Regions from separate parts of the Homo sapiens genome. Here regions 1, 2, 3 and 4 are each reported to be linked to region 5. Evidence: microRNA targets listed by miRTarBase, many of them from high-throughput screens and not tested one by one. Region 5 holds a microRNA gene; each other region holds the end of a gene's coding sequence.

The links. The annotated mature microRNA hsa-miR-4486 reads GCUGGGCGAGGCUGGCA and lies in region 5 at 1,691-1,707, shown strand. An mRNA with a match to its seed (bases 2 to 7 or 8) in the 3' UTR can be bound and repressed. Matches are read on the target gene's strand: a 7mer-m8 pairs with bases 2 to 8, a 7mer-A1 pairs with bases 2 to 7 and ends in A, and an 8mer does both.
Region 1: the mRNA of SF3A1 is a reported target of hsa-miR-4486. The part of its 3' UTR that is shown has no 7-base or 8-base seed match.
Region 2: the mRNA of LANCL3 is a reported target of hsa-miR-4486. The part of its 3' UTR that is shown has no 7-base or 8-base seed match.
Region 3: the mRNA of ALG14 is a reported target of hsa-miR-4486. The part of its 3' UTR that is shown has no 7-base or 8-base seed match.
Region 4: the mRNA of FAM234B is a reported target of hsa-miR-4486. Seed matches in the 3' UTR shown: 7mer-m8 at 1,974-1,980.

Annotation. Positions count from the first base shown.
Region 1 is chr22:30,331,024-30,335,023 of GRCh38, forward strand. SF3A1 (splicing factor 3a subunit 1) reads right to left here. Exons shown (of 16, transcript NM_005877.6): 16 at 965-3,672. The coding sequence ends at 3,571. Among named protein-coding and RNA genes, the nearest start is that of TBC1D10A, 6.1 kb to the left of the region's middle.
Region 2 is chrX:37,675,131-37,679,130 of GRCh38, forward strand. It overlaps LANCL3 (LanC like family member 3), which reads left to right. Exons shown (of 5, transcript NM_001170331.2): 5 at 524-4,000. The coding sequence ends at 683. Among named protein-coding and RNA genes, the nearest start is that of XK, 8.7 kb to the right of the region's middle.
Region 3 is chr1:94,979,822-94,983,821 of GRCh38, reverse strand. It overlaps ALG14 (ALG14 UDP-N-acetylglucosaminyltransferase subunit), which reads left to right. Exons shown (of 4, transcript NM_144988.4): 4 at 516-4,000. The coding sequence ends at 746. Among named protein-coding and RNA genes, the nearest start is that of CNN3, 55 kb to the right of the region's middle.
Region 4 is chr12:13,079,977-13,083,976 of GRCh38, reverse strand. FAM234B (family with sequence similarity 234 member B) reads right to left here. Exons shown (of 13, transcript NM_020853.2): 12 at 3,968-4,000; 13 at 528-3,352. The coding sequence ends at 3,347. GSG1 (germ cell associated 1) reads left to right here. Exons shown (of 7, transcript NM_001080555.4): 7 at 1-445. Among named protein-coding and RNA genes, the nearest start is that of GSG1, 22 kb to the left of the region's middle.
Region 5 is chr11:19,573,624-19,578,300 of GRCh38, forward strand. It overlaps MIR4486 (microRNA 4486), which reads left to right and starts at 1,687; the gene lies at 1,687-1,749. It also overlaps a transcript of NAV2 not described here.

The DNA of each region.
Region 1 (4,000 bases), not on the chromosome of region 5:
AACAGCTGGGCTTGAGGATCTCACATAGGCCCCTCTCCTGGATCCTGGAATGTGCAGTTGGCATGTGCTCAGGAAACCTGTGAGCACTGGCCATGAGCAAAAGTCCAGATGCCCTTTTTTTTTTTTTTTTTTTTTTTGAGACGGAGTCTTGCTCTGTTGCCCAGGCTGGAGTGCAGTGGTGTGATCCTGGCTCACTGCAACCTCCACCTCCCGGGTTCAAGAGATTCTCCTGCCTCAGCCTCCCAAGTAGCTGGGATTACAGGCACCTGCCACCTGTTATAACAGTATTCTCTGTAATGATCTATTTTAATTTTAATTTAAAAAAACTTTTTTAGAGATGAGTTCTCACTATGTTGTCTAAGCTGACTTTGAACTTCCTGGCTCAAGCAATCCTCTTACCTCAACCTCCCAAGCAGCTGGAACTACAGGTGTGTCACTGTGCCTGGCAGGAGTTTATCTTGTCCTGCTTCATGGACTGTAGTGTCCAGGGGTACCTAGAATTGTTCACTTACATGCTGGGAGCAGTGTCAGGGCATGGTGTCAGGGAACTCACCAGGCAGTGTTCTTTTATATAACAATGCAGCCTTTTTTTTTTTTTTTAGACAGAGTTTCAATCTTGTTGCCCAGGCTGGAGTGCAATGGTGCTATCTCAGCTCACCACAACCTCCACCTCCTGGGTTCAAGCGATCCTCCTGCCTCAGCCTCCCAAGTAGCTGGGATTACAGGCATGTGCCACCATGCCCGGCTAATTTTGTATTTTTAGTAGAGACAGGGTTTCTCCATGTTGGTCAGGCTGGTCTTGAACTCGCGACCTCAGGTGATCCGCCCGCCTCGGCCTCCCAAAGTGCTGGGATTACAGGTGTGAGCCACTACACCTGGCAACAATGCAGAATTAAAAAAATGTAACAATACAGAATAGTTAACAGCAAATCTCCATATCTGGTAGAGTTAATGATCATAACTCTTAAGATCTTACATTTTGCTTTTATTTTTAAAAAGTAAACTTCTAAAAATCTTATACACTGGTATGTGTACCCATGAGTAGAGCTATATTATGCTTTCTTGTCTAATTACAGGGATAAATGAAATATGATTGCTAATAGTACATGTATTTCCATTCAAGTATATATCCTAACATAACCCAATATAACCATTTAATATATTCTCTAATACAATATTATTAATTTTAAAGTAAAATGGTTCTGATCATTACTGGCCTCCTCTAAGAGTACATGACAAGTACTTAAGTAGTGGGTAGAACTGAAAGTGAAATTCCTTAATGTCTACAATTCCTGGAGCCCTCTGCATGCAAGTCTTCAAAATTATGGTGACTTAAGTCCCACACCACCTGTTTTCCCAGCAGTCCTGCAACAGGAGCACTTATTCCTATTTCATAGTGTGGTCTGGTGGAGCAGAGCAGTGTGGTCCCCAGGAAGGGATGAGCTGCTTTGGCTTTCCAGAGCACTCACTGGCTACATGACCTTGGGTATTCCACCTCGTTTTAAAAATGGGGCAGATAATCCTCAGGAGATTGCAAGAAGAATCAGAAAAGCTGTGCAGAGCAGCTTTGTATTATAAACACTAGGACGCTACCTACATGCTGCAGGTCCTAAACTAGTGCAGTGCCAAGCAGCACACTGGGCCTGTGGCCACTGATGTTCACAAGGCCTCATGGTCAATGGAGCTTCTGCATCTGAGCGAGCCAGTACAGATATTCATTCAGGAGCTCCAGGAAACTGGATTTGCTCTCTAGAGGGCAGCTCAAAGGGCCCATTCACTCACAATCCACCCAACGGCATTCCTGGCCTCCGGTCACAGCCTCAGCCACGGAAGTCCTGCAGGGTTTGCCAGTCTGTGGGGGTGAGTGCCCTAACACCATGAACTGCCCACTGCTCCCAGAAAGAAAGAAGAACTTGGAATATGAGACTCCCCAGGTCTCCTGACCCTCTTCCTTCTTGGAATGAGACCCAGGTAGTGCTCAGGGGATTTCTGGTGTTGGCCATGGACAAGCAACCAGTAGTGGGCTCACTTTAGGGACGCAAACCACAAAGCCCACCTCAGGAAGCCAAATTTCAACTCTTGCCCCTGGGGCAAACTTCTAGCAACCAGGCCAGAGGCAAATGTCAGACAGGATAAGGGATGACATCCCATCAATCAAGTTGAAAATGGGAGGGACCCAGCAGTTTGTAATAAAGCCATAAAACTGGTACTGACTCTGGGTGAGAGGGAGAGGCAGGGTGGTGACTAGAGAGCTGGTTCTGTGACCTTGGGAAATGGTCTCACCCCTCTGAGCCCTGGAGATGACCTGATGGGGCAGCTAGGAGGTCCAAATGGAAGGACTGCAAATAAAAGGCACTGGGAACTCTCAGGGGCCACACACATGTGAGATCTTCCCAATAAAATCAGCCTTAGCTTTAAAACCAGGAAATTGTTAGCAACAGGCTCTCACCTTCCTCCAACACCCACAGCATTGCCTATCTCCCTGTGATAGCTTGATTCTAAAGATAACAGCCTGCCTTTACTCAGAAACCAGGACTGTGACGTGTTTTGCACACATTCTCTTTTCACTTTCACAGTGTGTGACTATGGCATGCAACTTATGTTCTCTGTGCCTCAGTTTACTCAAGTGTTAAACAGGAATACTCACATGAGGATTACATGAGTTAAAATGGATAAAATGGATAAAAGTAGAGAGTAAATTATTTAAACTTTATCAAATCCTTGGTACATGACCTTAATACAATTAAGTATTTGTTAAATACATACATTTTAAAGAAACGTCATCATATCCACACACCTATGAGGCACCTGCCCAGGACCACAGAGCCAATCAATCAGGTGATGAGTGATTCCAGGCCAGCAGGAAACCACCGCCCACTGACACAGGGACTGCACCATCCATCCTTGGTTTGCATGGTGCCTGCCATGCTTCCTGTATTACTGTTAAATACATGGGGCAGGCCTTTGGAGGATCCCAATGTTTTAAAAGGGCAATACGAATATGATTCTAATACATAAAAAGTATGAGGGCAGCAAGAATTTAGTTACAAAACCCAAAAATCCTCAAAGAGAAGCCACATAGCACTGTGCAGTGTTACCACTGCCTCGAGTCTGGACAGGGCACAGGTGACCGAGACAAGTCTTATTTAACTGATTTCACAAGAAGGGTCCGAGTTTTATTAGACAACCCATGTCAAGGTACAAAATGATTAATGACAATATCAGCCATATTCTATTAGCCAAGTGCCACCTGTCACTATGAAACTATCCTGTAGGACATCCCTGGGCTCTCAGTTGCTAATGGGCTGCTGAAGAAATGAATGTCCTCAAATCGAGACCCTAACACAAAGAGATTCCAGAGAGTGGCTTAGAAAACCCAGCTACTCTTACCAATGTGGGGAAAGGGTCAGGGGAATGAACCTCTGCAGGACAATTTGAATTCCCAAACTGAGTAAGAGCGAAACAAATATGCAGGCAAGGCAAAGCCTCAGGGGGGCTCCTGGGTCTGGGGCAGGGGGTGGGAGACAGGAGAGGCAAAATGGCAGGGACTTGACAGCAGGTTCCTCTTGTCTACTTCTTCCTCCCGCCTCTCTCCTTGAGGGCCAGGTGGATGACTGCGCCATTGGCCATGTTGTAGTAAGCCAGTGAGTTGGAATCTTTGATGAAGATACCCTGGAAAACAGACAGCGTGCCTTAGCATGGGGCAACCCAGCCTTGGGGATACCGCTGCAACCTTACAACTGTGCACTTGGTCTGTTTGCGCTCTGGACTTAGCAAATACAGGAGCTTGTGAGAAGGTAGGGTGTTGGGGACTGGAGGCCTCTCATTCCTCCCACTGTTTCCTTTCTTCCCACCAATTACGCTCCTCCCCTTTGTCAACATTTGACTCAAAAGCTCAACTCCCCAAAAAGTTGGCCCCTCACCAACTCCATGGAGCTCTGACTCTGAAATCACAAGACCTTTAGGGATCACTTAGCCCAACAGCCTCAATGGATAGAGA
Region 2 (4,000 bases), not on the chromosome of region 5:
TGCCTTTTCCTATTCATCTTATTCCCTTGTTTGCTCACAGCACAGATTGTATAAAATCTTGCCCATTTATTTTTACAGTCTCTGCTTTTTGTCATATATAAACAAAAACCCAGCTTAGAGGTAATGTCTGCAGAAACACAGCATATTTACTTTTTTAAAGGAACAGTCACGTATCACTTTGCTTCTTTTCAAGATAAATAAAAGTAGAGCAATTTGTCTGTCTTTTTTTACTTTAATTACTGGATGACAGAAAGAATGAGATCCTTGAAAATTCCAAACTGCTTTGCTTTGCAAACTCTAAGAATAGTTGGATTTGCTTGCCAGCATAATTTGTTGTGAAACATACACAGTTATATAATGGATCTTCTTCTTTAACAGAGAAAATGTGTTTCTTAAAATACTTAATTATATAATTCTGGAAAGAAAATTATGCTAAAACTTTAATAGAAGAGGAAGAAGCAACCCAAGGTCCATAATATGGAAACACTCATGTTAAACTGTTCATATTTTCTTCTTCTCTTAGGTTTGCTCAATTCTTATTTACCGAGGAATTCAAGGCCGGTTCTCGGGTCCTTGAAAGTATATACAGCTTGTATGAAGGCTTCTCTGGGACAGTGTGCTTTCTGATTGACCTGCTGCAGCCCAATCAGGCTGAATTCCCACTCTTCAGCGTCTTTGTTTAGAAGGCTCTATCTTCCACTGTGGCCCTGCAGAGATCCCCTGAGCCAAGCCGAGGCAGTTTCCACATAAGCCACATTCAATGGTATCGCAACCATGAGCCTTAACATTGCCATCAGAAGGAAGGAATCAGGCAGGTGAAGGCAACATGATGCCAGATTTGAGAAAGGATCTGCAAAATAAAGATACCACAATTCATCTTAAAACTGCAGAGATTTAATGTGTCAGGGAATAGATGTGAAACAAGGGATCATAGGAAAAGGGGAAAGAGAAATGATCTGTTTTTCAGTTATGACATAGAAAACCAAACTGCAAGTGTAGACTATGACAAAAAATACACTAATACCTTTGCAATCTGAATGAGAATTTGACCATTTGTGTGTGCCCTCTACCCTTAAATTCAGAAATAAAGACAATAAAAAATTAAAATAATTGCCCAGCTGAAAACTGCTATGAGGAATGGATTGTCAGGTTGCTGAAGTATAAAAATAAACTCTTGGTTGTCCTGTGCTTATACTTATTGAAATTTATGGTTTTTACTGAGCAAAGATATTTGCATATGAATCTCTATTTTTTTCATTACCCTGGGCAATTTAAAGAAATCATATCATAGCGTAGTTCAGATACTAAAATTTGAAGTTTCCTTAGGCCCTAGAACATCTCTTTTCCTGGTTCCTTTTTTTTCCTCAAAGCTCAATTAGAATAGCAAAATTTATAAGCTAGTAAACTTATACTATAGCAAGTGTTGCTGTAAAGTGTTTTTCTCCATAGGAAGTGTGAACTGTGTATTGTCTATTGTTAGTAATTTTAAAAATGCCTTTATGTACATAATCTTGATGGAGCTATTAGCTGAACTATAAAATATGCTCTTGGTAAATATCACTAATTTCAAAGATCAGGGGAACCACTACAAAGACGTGTCATTTCTGCCTTTGTTTGGGACAGGCAGACAGGCTGAGGAAGTCACCAGTGATTGTGGAAATAATTTTGCTCCATTTTATACTATTAAATGAAGAGATGAGTGAATTCTGTGGTTGGTTACCTTACCTTCCAAGATACAGGGTCCACTAGAAATTGGCTGTAATACTCATTGAGCCAAGTTGTCATATCAAATTCAACCCTGCTGTAAACACATAGAAGTTGTGAAACTGCTTCAAGTAAATAGTGGTTTGCAGAACACTGTAGGAGCATCTGTCACTTCATTATGCAGAGCATAAGTTGATCCTTTTCCTAGAATTTTGTCAGTGGCAATTGCATATATCAGATTGAGTAGGAAATTGTGTACTGTATAAGACTTATTTAAATAGTCATTAAATATTTGGATATATTATGTGTGTGTGTGTGTGTGTGTGTGTGTGTATGGTGTGTATTCCATATCTATTCCCATGTAAATCCAAATACTTATTCTTTATTTCAGTAATTCTTAACTTGAATCATAGACTTTGGAACGAGTTAGGGAATGCTCTGTTGCCTAAAAAGCAAACCTACAAGTATGTTGGTGTGTGTATGTGTATGGACCAGTTTGTTTGTGTGTGTGTGTGCTCATTTTGAGGGGACAAGGATCTCTAGCATTCATAACATTCTCAAAGAATCTGACCAAAGAAAGGTAACAACTATCTTTGTGTATTTTATGACTGTGTGTGTTTGCACTCATTGCAATAAAGTAGGACAAAATGATTTTGAAATGCATACATCTTTTCAGCTTCCTGTTTCATTTTTACATCCTCAGATACAACCATATCAAATTGGCCTCAGTTGTTCATCAGTGAAAATGCTCAGTTTGGGGTGATACCACATAAATAGCAGCTTTCAGATGACTCCCCACATTGGGTCCAGAAGTTCTTTCATATAGGCTGAATATAATAACCATCCTATATACAGAGCTTTATGGAACACATGCAGTTTTTATCGTCCAAGAACCCCTCAAGATGTGTTTGGTAAATGCTCCAAAGTCTTACAGCTAGAAAAGGACAAAACCAGGATTCAAACCCAGGGTTTCACTTTCTAAGTTTATTTATTCAGTATTCTAGACTAGAATCTGGGGATACAATAGTGAACAAAATAAACTTTCCCTCAAAGCTACCTTCTGTTTCCATTTGCTGTTCCTTTCACAATTCATCCTTGAGACCTGAAACCTAAAGCACTCAGAACTGATACTCTAGTTCATTATCATATCAGTTCCATTTCTAGTAACTTCAGAAAAACAAGACCACTTTCAGGCCTATCTGCCCTTTTAAGTTCTGATAGGTCTGATGATGATGTGCTAACCATTTTGATTTGTGTGTCAAATCTAAGCAAAGACCATGTTTGAGTATTGTCTTTATGAAATGACATTTCGGTAAATTAGAAACAACAATAGGCTTGTTTAGCCCTTAAACATGTTGATGAAACTTTTCATTTTCCTGAAAGAATTATAGATTTTGGAAGGTCCTCTTCTATATTATTTTTCCAAGAAGGGGAAAACGATTCTTACATTTTGCTGTAGGAAAGTGTGGCATGTTACTTCTTATTTAATTATCCAACTTGCCCCCCTTCTCTGTGGTAGCATTTTTAATGTAGTACTTAAGGCTGTTGTCTCTTAAAGGCTACAGGGGCATTTTCACCACCACTAGTATAACTTTAATATTATTTACTATATACAGCATGAGCAATTATAAACCCTGAAGGTAATAGTGGAAATGTTTGAGGATACATTGAAATAGTCTCTCAATAATGGGGAGACTGCATTATGCTTTGATAGCAAGACATTTTGGAAACCATTACAACTCTGTGTATTTTGTTTCATTAATGTAATTACATACCATCTCTTCCACACACACCCCAGAATATTATACATTTTTATTTTGCCCAAGCCTGTTTCAGTCATCAGTTTGTAGTCTTTTACTTCCACTTGTAACTTGATAACTGAGTAGAACAGGGGTTTGCTAGAGTATATTTCCCTGTGCTTCTTTAGGTAGTTGACTATGCTATTAAGATAACAGTATTTGCTTACTGATAACTTGAGAAACAGTCATTTTCTTGGTCTGTGCTAAATTGCATCTCTTCCAGTGGCAGCTTATTTCTTTAACTTTTTTGACATATTAAGATTTTAATCATGGTAATACTGAAATTGTTTCAAATTTGAAAGAGCGAACCTCAGTAACTTCAATGAAACAAATGGGTTTGTGATTTCTAGCCATGTTAAATGAACACACAATTAAAAGGAAAACCATTAGTGGTGCAAAGAGCCCTGTGCTGGAAATCTCAAAGTCTTGCTCTGCCACTTTTAGGGGCCACTGTAGTAATAATAATAATCACCCTGTCTACTTCACAGGGTTGTTAT
Region 3 (4,000 bases), not on the chromosome of region 5:
TGCAGTGAGCCGAGATCACGCCACTGCACTCCAGCCTGGACAACAGAGCGAGACTCCATCTCAAAAAAAAAAAAATCTTCATAGTCAATTAAAGATATTTTCTCCCAAATCAAGAATAAGTTGGTACATTAAAGAAAACAGTGAATCTCAGTTGATTTTGTTTTCTGTATTTTTATGTGACATTCAAGGTCCACAGAGCAGTCAGAGAAGAGCAACACATGCCTGTCCGATGAGTGCTGACTGAGCACCAGGAACTGTGCTAGAAGTTAGAAGTTAAGTGATTTGCCCTGAGTCACACAGTTGGTAAGCAAGAGAGCCAAGACAACACAGCTCTGCCTGGCTCCAAAGTGCATGGGCTTAAACATGCGCTGTTTGCTGCATCCTGGTTCTTGACAGAGAAGGACTTATTAGAATCATAAGCAGATCCCCTCTGAAATCAGGCTGTTCTTAATGCAAAATGCCTCCCTTAGATTATTATTCTGTATTTTCATTTGACCTTCAACTTTTTCTTTCAGGTGTTGTGTAACGGACCAGGAACATGTGTTCCTATCTGTGTATCTGCCCTTCTCCTTGGGATACTAGGAATAAAGAAAGTGATCATTGTCTACGTTGAAAGCATCTGCCGTGTAGAAACGTTATCCATGTCCGGAAAGATTCTGTTTCATCTCTCAGATTACTTCATTGTTCAGTGGCCGGCTCTGAAAGAAAAGTATCCCAAATCGGTGTACCTTGGGCGAATTGTTTGACAAATGGCAACTGACTTCTTTAGAATTTTGCAGTTAACAGTAGTATGTACTCAAATTGGGGGGAAAAAAACCCTACATGTTTCTTGTAAAGGCGTCTGACAGTCCTGAGAATTATTGATGGTAAGGAATAAAAAATGTACAGATGACTCAGTGAAGAAACTGAGGCTTCTCTTATGAAACAAACATTGATAAACGTAACTACTAAATGTTTATGCCTCTGTAAACCAAATTTCTTTTCTAGATAAAAATATGTATTACTACCTGCAAATTTTCTTCTGGCTGTTTTAGTAGTATTTTTTTTACAGAACTAAATATAGAGTTTGTATGATTAGTAATATTTCCTGTCCTACAGCTTTTTTTTTTTTTTTTTTTTTTTGTAAAGTATTCTGCATTGTAAAAGAAGAGAGAAAAAAAGTATTTCTGAGTTTTGGTTCAGATACAAAAGGCTTTATTTCCTGTATGGAAACAGTGATGTCCCCAGTGAATCCTTTCAGCATAAAGGAAGCAGTTATATTAAATTGGCTTCATGACAATTTGCACTCCACAAGCCTCCAGAACCTTGAGCATAAACCAGTATCATTTTTTGTACTTCAGTCTTGCTTTTTGAGTAGTTGGCCTTAATACAGAGTATCTTTTAAAATCTCTTGTTTAGGCCGGCATGACGGCTCACACCTGTAATCCCAGCACCTTGGGAGGCTAAGGCGGGTGGATCACTGGAGGTCAGGAGTTTGACACCAGCCTGACCAACATGGTGAAACCTTGTCTCTACTAAAAATACAAAAATTAGTCAGGCGTGGTGGCACATGCCTGTAATCCCAGCTACTCGGGAGGCTGAGGCAGGAGAATCGCTTGAACCCGGGAGGCAGAGGCTGCAGTGAGCCGAGATTGCACCATTGCACTCCATCCAGCCTGGGTGACAAGAGTGAAACTTCGTCTCAAAAAAAAAAAAAAAAAACAAAACTCAATGATGTAGGGACTGTTATTATTCCCATTTTACAGATGACTTGTCCAAGATCACATGAGTAGTAAGTAGCAAAGCCAGAATTCAAGTTCAGGTAAACCTGACTTCTTAGTGGGGCCAGTTTCACGGGTGTGTGGCCTGTGCAGTCACACAGAGTTCTGCACTGAAGAGGGCCTCCACTTGGTTTAATGTTCTGCTGTGACTCTCTTGAACTTCTGAATATTTTTTTAAACAATGAACTTATATTTTAGACCCTCTGAATTCTTTCGCTGGTCCTGCTTGAGACTGTGTTTCTAGTGGTGCCATGTCTACTGGAATAGAAGTACAATAGTTAGTGCAGTGCCTGGCCCAGGAGCTCCTCAAAAACAGGAATTCCATTTCCTTCCCTCTAACCTCTGCTTCTTTAACAAAGCAGCCAAAAAAAAAAAAAACAAAACAAAATAAAAAACAGAAAAGAGAAGATTCTCTCCTGTAGTATATATAGGTTTTTTCCTCTTAAATCTTTTGCTTTATAAGTATGATATAAATCTAATAAATAGTGATTAGTGAAGTGATTGAATTTTTGTGAAAAGAGACATGATTATCCACGATCATGTAAGATTAAAATCCTGAGGCTGATCCAGCCTTTTTTCTTTTTTTTTTTTTTAAAAAAAAAAAGCAAAAAAAACAAAAAAACTGTCTTCTCTGAATCATGTAACAGGCGCATCTGTCAGCCGGACATCTTCCTAGGTTTTTGGCTGGAGAAATGTGTAGCCGAAGGTGTCTCAGAATGGTGAGAACACTTTGCTGTCTGGATTTAGTGGGCCTGGGGCAGCCAAATGATAGTTCATTGTGCTTTGATTTTAATCCTCAAATCTCAGTCACTGGTTGCTTCCCTGGAGTATCAGAGCGTATTAGTATCATACAACCAGGGGCTGAGGTGAAATAAGCCTTGACTGTTCTAGAAAGAAAGTGATTTTTTCAGGGACAACAGCATCTGCATTTTATTGCTGTTTAAGGCTTTCTCTGCTCTGTACTTTGTTCCCTGAGTGGCACTAGGTAAATGAATGGTAAGGGAAAGTGAACTGCGTTTAGTGAATGCCTCTCTGTGCTGTGGGGCAGCTTCCCTGGGCCCCCACAGGTAATCCTGCTGCAGAGGCTTCTGTCAGGTCAGAGCTTAACAAAGATCAGACCAGAGAGAATTGTAGAAAAGATGCTATAATTTTTTCCAGAAACATATGTCCCAGATGTTTTGCAGAGCCTTAACTTAAGACAGTGGTTAGCCTGGAATGTCAGAGAAAGAATGTGTATGTGTTATATCACCAAAAGTTTAGAAATGTTATATCTTTCATAGGTTCAGGCTGCTGTGTACTCATTCAGAGCCAGGCTGAGACATGTGTTATTGCATCTTCCTGATCATTCAGATTACTCTGGTAAACAAGTGCATGCTCTGCTGTGTGTTACTGTTATGGCTAATTTGAGTCCTCAAGGTCCCATTAGCAGAGGGGGCTGGTGGCACAATTTCCCTGCTGTGCATTTCTGTGACATTCAGAAAGATAGTGCGCCAGTCCCAACTCAAACTGAAGAAGATGAGTAGCTAGCTTGTCCCTTCCAGTTTCTCTTAGAACACTCTGAATGCAACTTTTACTGTAGGAGACTGTTCATGAAAAAATTAATTGAATCAGTCTTCAAATGAGAGGCAGGGAAACCACACATCCTGCCCACACCTACTTCCCTGGAAGATTTCTATCTACAGTCCAGCTATCCTAAAAGGTCTCAGTAGCTTGCCAGGTCAGAATGTCTAACTGTTTCAAAAAGGATGCCCAAAAATCATGACAGGAAACTTTAGCCTGGAACGAAGAGTGCTATGAAACCGTGTCAACAAGAGGAGTGGTGACAATTGTGAGTTGAATAGCAAGATGTCCTTGCTAGGAAGGAGATGACCCAAGCTTCCCCTTATAAAAGCAACTTGGAACACATCATTCTACCTTTCAAAGATACATGGTAAGTTAAAATTGAGAAACGTACCCCTTTACTATACAGTTCCTTGGGTTGAATGAGTGCTTTTTTTTTTTTCTGAAAAGCCCCATCCCCCAAAAGGCATTTGATAGCAATGTATTAAGCACCTTTTACCAACAATAAGAACATCATTGTAAGTGTTAAAGAAAATTGTCCTTCTCCCTACAGGTCAGCGTTTGAGCCTCACGGGGTTTCTTCCCATGACTTCAGCCCTGGCGCACAATGAGCAGACACCCAAATCTTGTCCGCCTTCAACATTCTTTTGTTAGGGCCCATCCCTCTAGCACTCTAAAAA
Region 4 (4,000 bases), not on the chromosome of region 5:
TTTATAATAGCAAAGACTTGGAACCAACCCAAATGTCCATCAGTGATAGACTGGATTAAGAAAATGTGGCACATATACACCATGGAATACTATGCAGCCATAAAGAAGGATGAGTTTATGCCCTTTGTAGGGACATGGATGAAGCTGGAAACCATCATTCTGAGCAAACTATCGCAAGGATAGAAAACCAAACACTGCATATTCTCACTCACAGGTGGGAATTGAACAATAAAAACACTTGGACACAGGGTGGGGAACATCACACACCGGGCCTGTCATGGGGTGGGGGGAGGGGGGAGGGATAGCATTAGGAGATATACTAACGTAAATGACGAGTTAATGGGTGCAGCACACCAACATGGCACATGTATACATATGTAACAAATCTGCACGTTGTGCACATGTACCCTAGAACTTAAAAAAAAAAAAAAAAGAATGCCACCCATCTACTTGCCCGTTCTCTTTTCCATATGGGGAAACAAACCATCCTTGATGACTAAGACGAATGAGAATGGCACACAAGTGTATTCCTGTAGAGTATTTATTTATTTACTCTATAACAGTTCACATTTTAAATAGTGCTTCCTGACAATATACCAGCTGGCTCTTCTTTAATAGGGCAATAAGGATAGCAATTCACATTCAGGGGATTAGTTTCACCATACCACACATTTGGGGGATGGCAAAAACGGGGTCTAAGGAAAAGGGAGGGTGTTTAAGGGAAAGAGGAGGGTAAGACCCTTGCATTTGTAGAAGTCATTACTATTTCTCAGTAGTGGTCATATTGGCTTTGCCGGCAACCTCAGGATGGGATTAGAGAAAGAAAGGAGCATGTCCTATCTTAGACACCTGGGTGGGTGGCTGCCTGCAAGGAGAAGGAGGCTTAGGGACACATTTCACAAGAAACCAGCACCCACATTGGTCAGATGAAGCTTCCTCAATTTTCAGCCACCACTTACACCTTTCTGTACCGGCTGCAAGAGGAAGAAGAAAACTAAACTTATAATGTTGTTTGGCAAGGAGAGATTCAAACTTACCATAGTCAAAAGAATCTATGTTAAGTTAGTTTGCAAATACACCATGAAGAATTCAGGTACATTAAGTTTCTCTAGCTTCCTCTTATCTTTCTGGGATTTGCCCTGCATAAACACAGTCCTCTGCCCAAACAATCCCACCAAAACAGGTCCTCAGAAAACAACTTCATGTTTCACTCCTGCGCAGAGTGGCTGGCTTCCCAGAAAGCCTTAACATAACAGAGAACCAGGTTATGCCCGGACAGCTCAGCCAAACCACAGGACCACCACCCAAGTTTTGGGTATTCAGCTGCCTATAAATTAATTCTTCAAATTCTATACTAAACCAAATTAGGTCCCAGGCCCTTAAACTCAAGTAGATTCAAATCCCAGAAATTATCTGGAATCATTCCCATACTCTAGAAGTATCTTCTTATTCCTCCAAAGTCAAGCTGGACCCACAGATGACTTCCAAACTGTTGAAACAAAATTTGCCTTCAGGATCTTAAGGCAGAGGCACCCAGAAACCTGATAAGGCCAATCTACAGGCCAGGCAACATGCATGCTTGGATCTACTGCTACCAACCTCCTGTTAGGTCATAATGCCTGTCAGTGGGTAATTAACAGAGATCCCTTTGAATCTGGACTTCATAATTTTCTAGAATCCTTTTACTAACACAAGCTAAAAGATACAAGCCCAGCCGGGCATGGTGGCTCACGCCTGTAATCCCAGCACTTTGGGAGGCAGAAGCAGGTGGATTATCTGAGGTCAGGAGTTCGTGACCAGCCTGGCCAACATGGTGAAACCCCGTCTCTACTAAAAATACAAAAAAAAAAATTAGCCAGGCATGGTAGCGGGCACCTGTAGTCCCAGCTACTTGGGAGGCTAAGGCTGGAGAATCGCTTGAACCCAGGAGGCGAAGGTTGCAGTGAGCCGAGATTGTGCCACTGCACTCCAGCCTGGGCGACAAGAGCAAAACTCTGTCTCAAAAAAAAAAAAAAAAAAAAAAAAAAGATACAAGCCCAGGTAAAGAGAGAACCTGAGGTGCACTCAGGGATGACCTATCAAGGTTATTCAAGAAGCAGTTTTCCATCCGCTAACATTGAATTTTCTGCTATATAAACAATGACCTAAAAGTTTAGAGGAGAACTTAATTGAAGTAGCAGATTTATACAGAAGAAGGGAGAAGTAAGCACTGGAGATAATTCTAAATAACTTAACCATTTATAAAAGTTATAGTATTTACAGAAGAATTTTCCCAAAATACAATGCTTCAAAGGCTCTACAGGAAAGAAGAGATGCAGGACAAAATGGTTGCATCCTGGACTCAAGTAGCAGAAGAAAAAGTCCAGAAACATATCCCTGAATAGAAGAGAAAACAGAGTGAGGGGAGCTAAGGAGGGTGCCCTATAGAAAAAGATGCAGAGAAGACATACAGCAGGATAAGGACATCAAAGGCTCCTGACTTCCAGTTCTCCTCTAAGTTGAAGACAGCATGCAAACATACACTTCTGATGTCGCCACAGAAAAAAGATCATGACTGGCAGAACCATCAGAGCCACATATAACACAACATGTGGACTTGGTCAGAGATGGGTCACTGAGACTACATCCTCTTGCTCCCCTTGTGATAGGAATATAGTTATTCTTGTGGTCACTTAATAGACATGGATGGAAAATCTAAGGAAATAGGATATAAAACAAGAGAGATGAAAATGCTTGGATGGCTAACTCAGTCTTCCACTATAAATCTTTCTCATTCTGTCTACAATTTGGAAGTAGCCAAGGTACAGGTGGGAAAGAATAAGGAGAGAAATAAGTGGCCCTCAACATCAGAGGTAGGGCATCTGGAAGTCTCAAAATGACCAAACAAACCAGATATATTTCAGAAGGACAAGAAACTGGATCCCTGAAGCTTAGGACATACCTGGAAAATAACTTCACCACAACACTAAAATATACACACACACAGCACAATGTACAACAAAATGTTTCCTAGTCATAGACTTCACTGGCTTTCCCAGCAAGACTTCATAAATTAGACATACCAAAAAAATTAAATACTTAAGAGATTCACATTTCCAAACGATCCACGCAGAGTTCCTAGAGGGGATTAATGCAGGGACTGAAAAGGTAGGTAAGATGCCCCAGCCAAATAGATCATGCTGCCGTCAAAGACTCCAACATGCCTTCCCAAGCCTTTGCAACCATCAGGGAGGTGGTAAATGAGGACGAAGAAGTCTTCTCTCCATAGAACTGATTTTACAGTGACAGGAGAGTAGAGAGGGTATCCACTCTGTTCACTTCTTCTGCAACTGAAGATTCCATCAGATTAGATCTATGGAAAAAGAGTTATCGTGACTTTATTGTTTTTCATGGTAGAGATGTTCAAAGAAAAGCAGGAAAACTAAAGGTCAGAATATTTCTCTATTTTCCCGTCCTTTTCTTTAGCTCCAATAGTCTGTAAACATTTCCTCCTTCCAGAAAGGCCCAGAAACTTTGTTATTTTCCATGATAAGCTTTTGAACTTTGCACTAGACTATAATATTTCTTGGGAGTGGGGATGGGGAGGGAACATTAGCATTTTGAGCAAGATGATTCTTTGTAGTATGTAACTGCTACAAGCCCTGCATGATGTTAGCATCACTAGCCCCAACCCAGAAAATACCAGTCGTAGCCACCCCTGTCAGTCATTGGGACAATAAAAACCACGACCCCACATTGTCAAATGTCCCCTAAGGAAGATGCTATTATTTCCAGCTGAAAACAATTGAGAATCATTTCTTCATGGTCAGAAGGCATCCATAGGAAACAGTGTTGGTCCAAAACAACTGTCTTGATACACATCTACTCAAGAAAGTTCCCCATTCTGCCTACTTTCTAAAGACAAAGCTGGAATTGGTAGTATTTGTCCTAAACCCTCAAGAGGAACAATATTTCTGCAGCCACTCACCTCGTAGGGAGCTTCAACAAACTTTATCCTAGA
Region 5 (4,677 bases):
GATGGGAAAGCTAGGTCTTAGAGAGATTAAGAAACTTATCTGGTCACCAGCTTATAGGTAGGTGGTAGAGCCTGAGGACTGTGCTTTCTTCTCCTGGACAGAAAGTGCTGCCTGAGCCCTCCCCTGTACCCAGCCTGTCAGGGAGGCCTCCCTGGGTGGTTTCTGAGCTGGCTGCTTTGCAGGGCTAGAAGGCCCATCCCTCCTCACCTGCCTGTGTCTGTGGGAGGCTCTTGGCAAGGGTGCTGTGTCAGGCGGCCCAAGTGCTTTCAGCACTTGGGGGTGGCAGGCTAATTTACTGGCCTGCTGAGCAGCTGGTGGATGACTGGGGATTGTCTGAAGTCTGCCTAGAACCATGGCCTGGGGCAGGGCTCCTTCCAGCAACTTCCCTGGAGAGCTGGCTGCAAGGCAGGGCCAAACCAGCCATCATGATAGTGTGAAGGGCATTTTCTGTCAAAAGAGGATGTTGGACAAGAGTTGGAAAGACTTGAGTTCTGATCCTGGCTTTGCCACTAGCTAGTTGTATAAAACTGAGCAAGTTACTGAGCATTCCTGGTTCCCACTGCTTACAAAATGGGAGCAGTAATCATGCTTACCTCCCAAACTTGTTGGGAAAATATATGCAATGTGATTAGCCCAGGTGCAAAAATAAATGTTAGATATTTTATGTTTATTATGATTTATTATTAGCTACAGCCCCCCTCATCTGTAAAATGAGAGGTTTCATTCAGTAACCACAGGCCTGGCACTATTGAGCAGTAGGTGCTCAATAAATGTTAATTCCCTTCCTAGTCCCTTATTCTTCCTTTAGCATCAGATTCCTGGCCTGTGTTGTCCCTGGGGCTCCAACACTCCTGGCCCTGGCCTATAGGTTTTCCGTGGGCTCATGGGTAATGAGCCATCTTCCCAGGGCAGTGGGGCTAAGTGCTTTGGTGGACATTTTGGAGCCATTGTATTAGAAACCCCCTCTTTTTCCTTCTTTACTTCCTTCCTTCCATCCCGTTTATTTTTGTTGATCACCTATTAAGTGCCAAACATAGTGAATACAGCTGTGAGCAAGACAAGGTTCCTGCTACCGTGGAGCATAGGTCCAGTTAGAATTAGGTAGAGAGAAAGGAAATGAACAACCATGCAAGAAAATAAACTCTTTGAAAAGTAGAAAATAGAATGGTGGAACAGAAAGTGATGAGTGTGGGGAGAATAGCAAAGCCACCTTAGATGGGGAGTCAGGGAAGACATCACAAAGGAAACAACATTTGAAGCAGGACTTGAAAGATCAGAACAGGCCAACCATACTCAATTGGGCGAAGGGGTTTCCTGCCGAGGAAATAGCACAGGTGAAGGCCCTGAGGAGGGATGGAGTTTAGCTGGTGCCCCTATACTTCCTAATGGGAAGTGCCCAGTAAAGACACAGCTTTGCACTTCCAGCCCAGGCAAAGCAATCAGCCTGCATCTTCAAGGGTTGGCTGCACTTAAGATCCGGGGTGCTGCCAGGATGTTCTTTTTGCAGTTAATTTGCTGCAACTGGCAGAGGTTAATCATGTCCACATTCCTCAAGGCCCCTGCCAAAGCTGGCCCTTCTCACAGATGCTGGTTTAAATTAGAGGGGTTCTTAGCAGCAGACTAGATTTAGCAGTGATTAACCCCAAACTGGTCCTATTGCCTTGCCCTCCTGATGGGCAGGTGGAAGCATGCTGGGCGAGGCTGGCATCTAGCACAGGCGGTAGATGCTTGCTCTTGCCATTGCAATGAGAAAGGAGCCCATCAGCTCTCCTTCTAAGCCTGGGCTCCTACAGCAGCCAGAATGCCAGTCAGACCCATCCACGGTGCTCCACGCCTGGCCCTAGCCTTGCTCTTGCCTCTTCCTTGCTGTGCACATTCCTGCTCCACTCCACACCTTTGCCTGCCTTGTCTCTGTACCCGCAGGAGAAGCTCTACTCATTTTTCCAGACTGTGCTCAGATTCTACCCCCCTATGCAAGTACCTCCTCAGACACCCCTGGGGAAATTCACCTTTTCTTCCCCATTCTTCTAGTTTCTCTTTGCACATAAGCCCTTTAAGGCATTGGTCATCATCTATATTGTGTTGGGGAGACTGAGTTCCAACTAAAGTGGGAGCTCCCGATGGCCAGGGATCCATGTCGTTCATCTCTGCAGCTACAGGACCTAGCATGAGCTTTGGCATCTCATTCATTCAGCAAATGTGTATTGAAGGTCACTGTACCAGGCACTATGAGAGGTAAGGGAATCACAGCTGTGGACAAGGTGTGTTCCCTAGTTTTAAGTTGTAGCCCATTGTAACACAGAGGGCTGAGCAGATTACGGTGTGGACTCTAATAGATGCCCAGTTGAGCCTGGGTGGTTCAGGATGGCTTTTTTAAGTCATACAGAGTGAGGAATCTGAGGCTCAAAGGAGTGAAATAACTGGCCCAAGATCTCACATCTAGTGTATGGCAGAAAAAGTGCTCAAATCCAGGCCTAAGTGCCCTTTGCACACAGCCATTTGTGGAATGGGTCCTCCTCTGTCTACACTCTCCATTCCAAGCTAGCATACTCCTTTCTGATCCTCAGCCACAAAATAAACAGGTAAGGGATCAGACCCACTTGGCCAGAGACTGGGCAGCCTTGCCGCATTCTGATGCAAAAACCTGTTTTCAAGCTACTTCAAACTTTTGATGGTTCTTGAAGTCATAGAGAGGCTTTCAGCTGAATCCAAGGCAAGCGAACAGATTTCCCATCTGCAGGGTATTTTGAAACCACTCGCTTCTTACTCATGTTTCATTTGTTTGTTTTTCTATTACAAAAATAATGCATACTAATTGTAGAGAATTTGGGGAGAAATACAAATCACCCATAATTCCACCACCCAGAAATAACCATTGTTACTATTTTGGTATATTGAGATAGTTATTTGGGGATATTACTTAGAAATTGCTATAATATATAATTGCTGTTTATTAATTTATGCAAATACATGAATATGATTAACTTGTATATATTTAGCTTGTTGTAAAACTTACACATTCCGGTGCCTGGAAATTTCAAAGATCTGCTGCTCCCAAAGAGAGCTCTTAAACCTAATTCTGTATGGTCCTTTTCACGTGAATAACATATATCTGTTTCCCTCCCTGTCTTCTCTACCAGTCTGTGGGCTTCAGAAGGGAACCCTGAGCCTTTCTCATCATTCCCTCTTCAGTACACAGTGCATAGCAGACACACAGCATTGGATGGAATGGATGTGTCTGTGGCCTGGGAAGGTGTCCTGGGGTCCTTCCATCTGGCTGTCTTAGGCTGAGTGGTGCTGGTTATATATTTCTAAGGACAGCTCCCCCTTCTCTACTCTAATTCCTTGTTCACTAAGGAATTAAAGTATCTTACAGCAGGAATTTGTCTTTTACTTCAAGGAATCCCTGGGTTCCAGGAAGTGCCTTGCACAATGAAAGCCCTCAATCCATGTTTGTAAAAGCCTGAATGACCGGAATAATGCCACTGTTTGGTAAATAGTGTGCATGGATTATCACCACAGCCCTATGACGTGGGTCTAAGCATATCTTTATTTATCACATGAGGAAACTGAGGCTCAGAGAAGTTAAGCAGCTTGTCCAACGTCCGTGTGTTGCTAACTGGCGAAAGCCAAATGTGTGGTCAGCCTCCATCAGCGTTCTATTTGCTTCCTTCATGGGGCTGCTTTTCAGATACCTGTCCTCAGATACCCACCTGGCGAAGGAACCTGTTGGCTCGTGCCCCTTCACTTTTCTAAGGCTGGGTGAAATACCACAAGGGTAGGGCCGCTGACAGGGAAGATCTGCCACGAGGGCGCAGCCATCTGTGTGAGCCACCTGGCCTCTGGGCCCTGACCCCGGCTCCTCCTGGGCCCCCTAGATGCTCAGTGTAGCCACTTCTCCCTCTGTGTCCTTCACCACCTATCTTTTTCACAGCTCTGTTTCCCCTCTTGTCAGCAGATCTCTCAACAAAATGTTTTCCATCACTGCTGCCTATTTTTAGCCCTTTTATCACAGTTATTTCCTTTGGTAAATAGCTTCCTGGCATGGGGTGAGCAGCCTAACTCGGGAGCCAGCAAGCACTGTGTGGATGGGGGTGTGGGTTGGGTGGGCATCTGGGGTGAGAGGGAAGAATTGAGGAGCCATGGACCAGGCCCCACTATTGGGGGCTGCTTTCTGTTCCAATGGTGGCAGCAGCAGCAGGAGCAAGATGCTCATTCATTCCATTTCAATTTGTTAAAACCATTCTTTGAGAAGGCAGCATGTGCACAGGCCTCGGAAGCAGACAATCAGCGACAGGCGCCCAAAATAGACTCAAAATCAGCAGCATTTTGTTTTGCTCAAGGCTTTTCATGCCTGCAAGGGGAGGAAAGAAAGGATCCAGAGCATTTTCTGCTTCCAAACACACATCTATTTTACAATAAGACAAATGACTCGTATTCCTCCTATTAAATCCAGCAGCGTCCCCTCCCCACCACCCCTTCTCTGAAGCCCTCGCCAGCATTTCCTTTTGTGGCTGTAAGAGAAGCAAATAGCAGTTCATGCATCTCCAGTGCAGAGTGCCTCTGCCTCCTCCGGCTCTGCCTGCGAGCTGGGCTTTTACAAGCTGAGATTTTCATAAATTAACGCTGCGCGTGCTGCTGTAGCTGCTGTAATGGCTTTCCAGAAGGTGCTGTGAG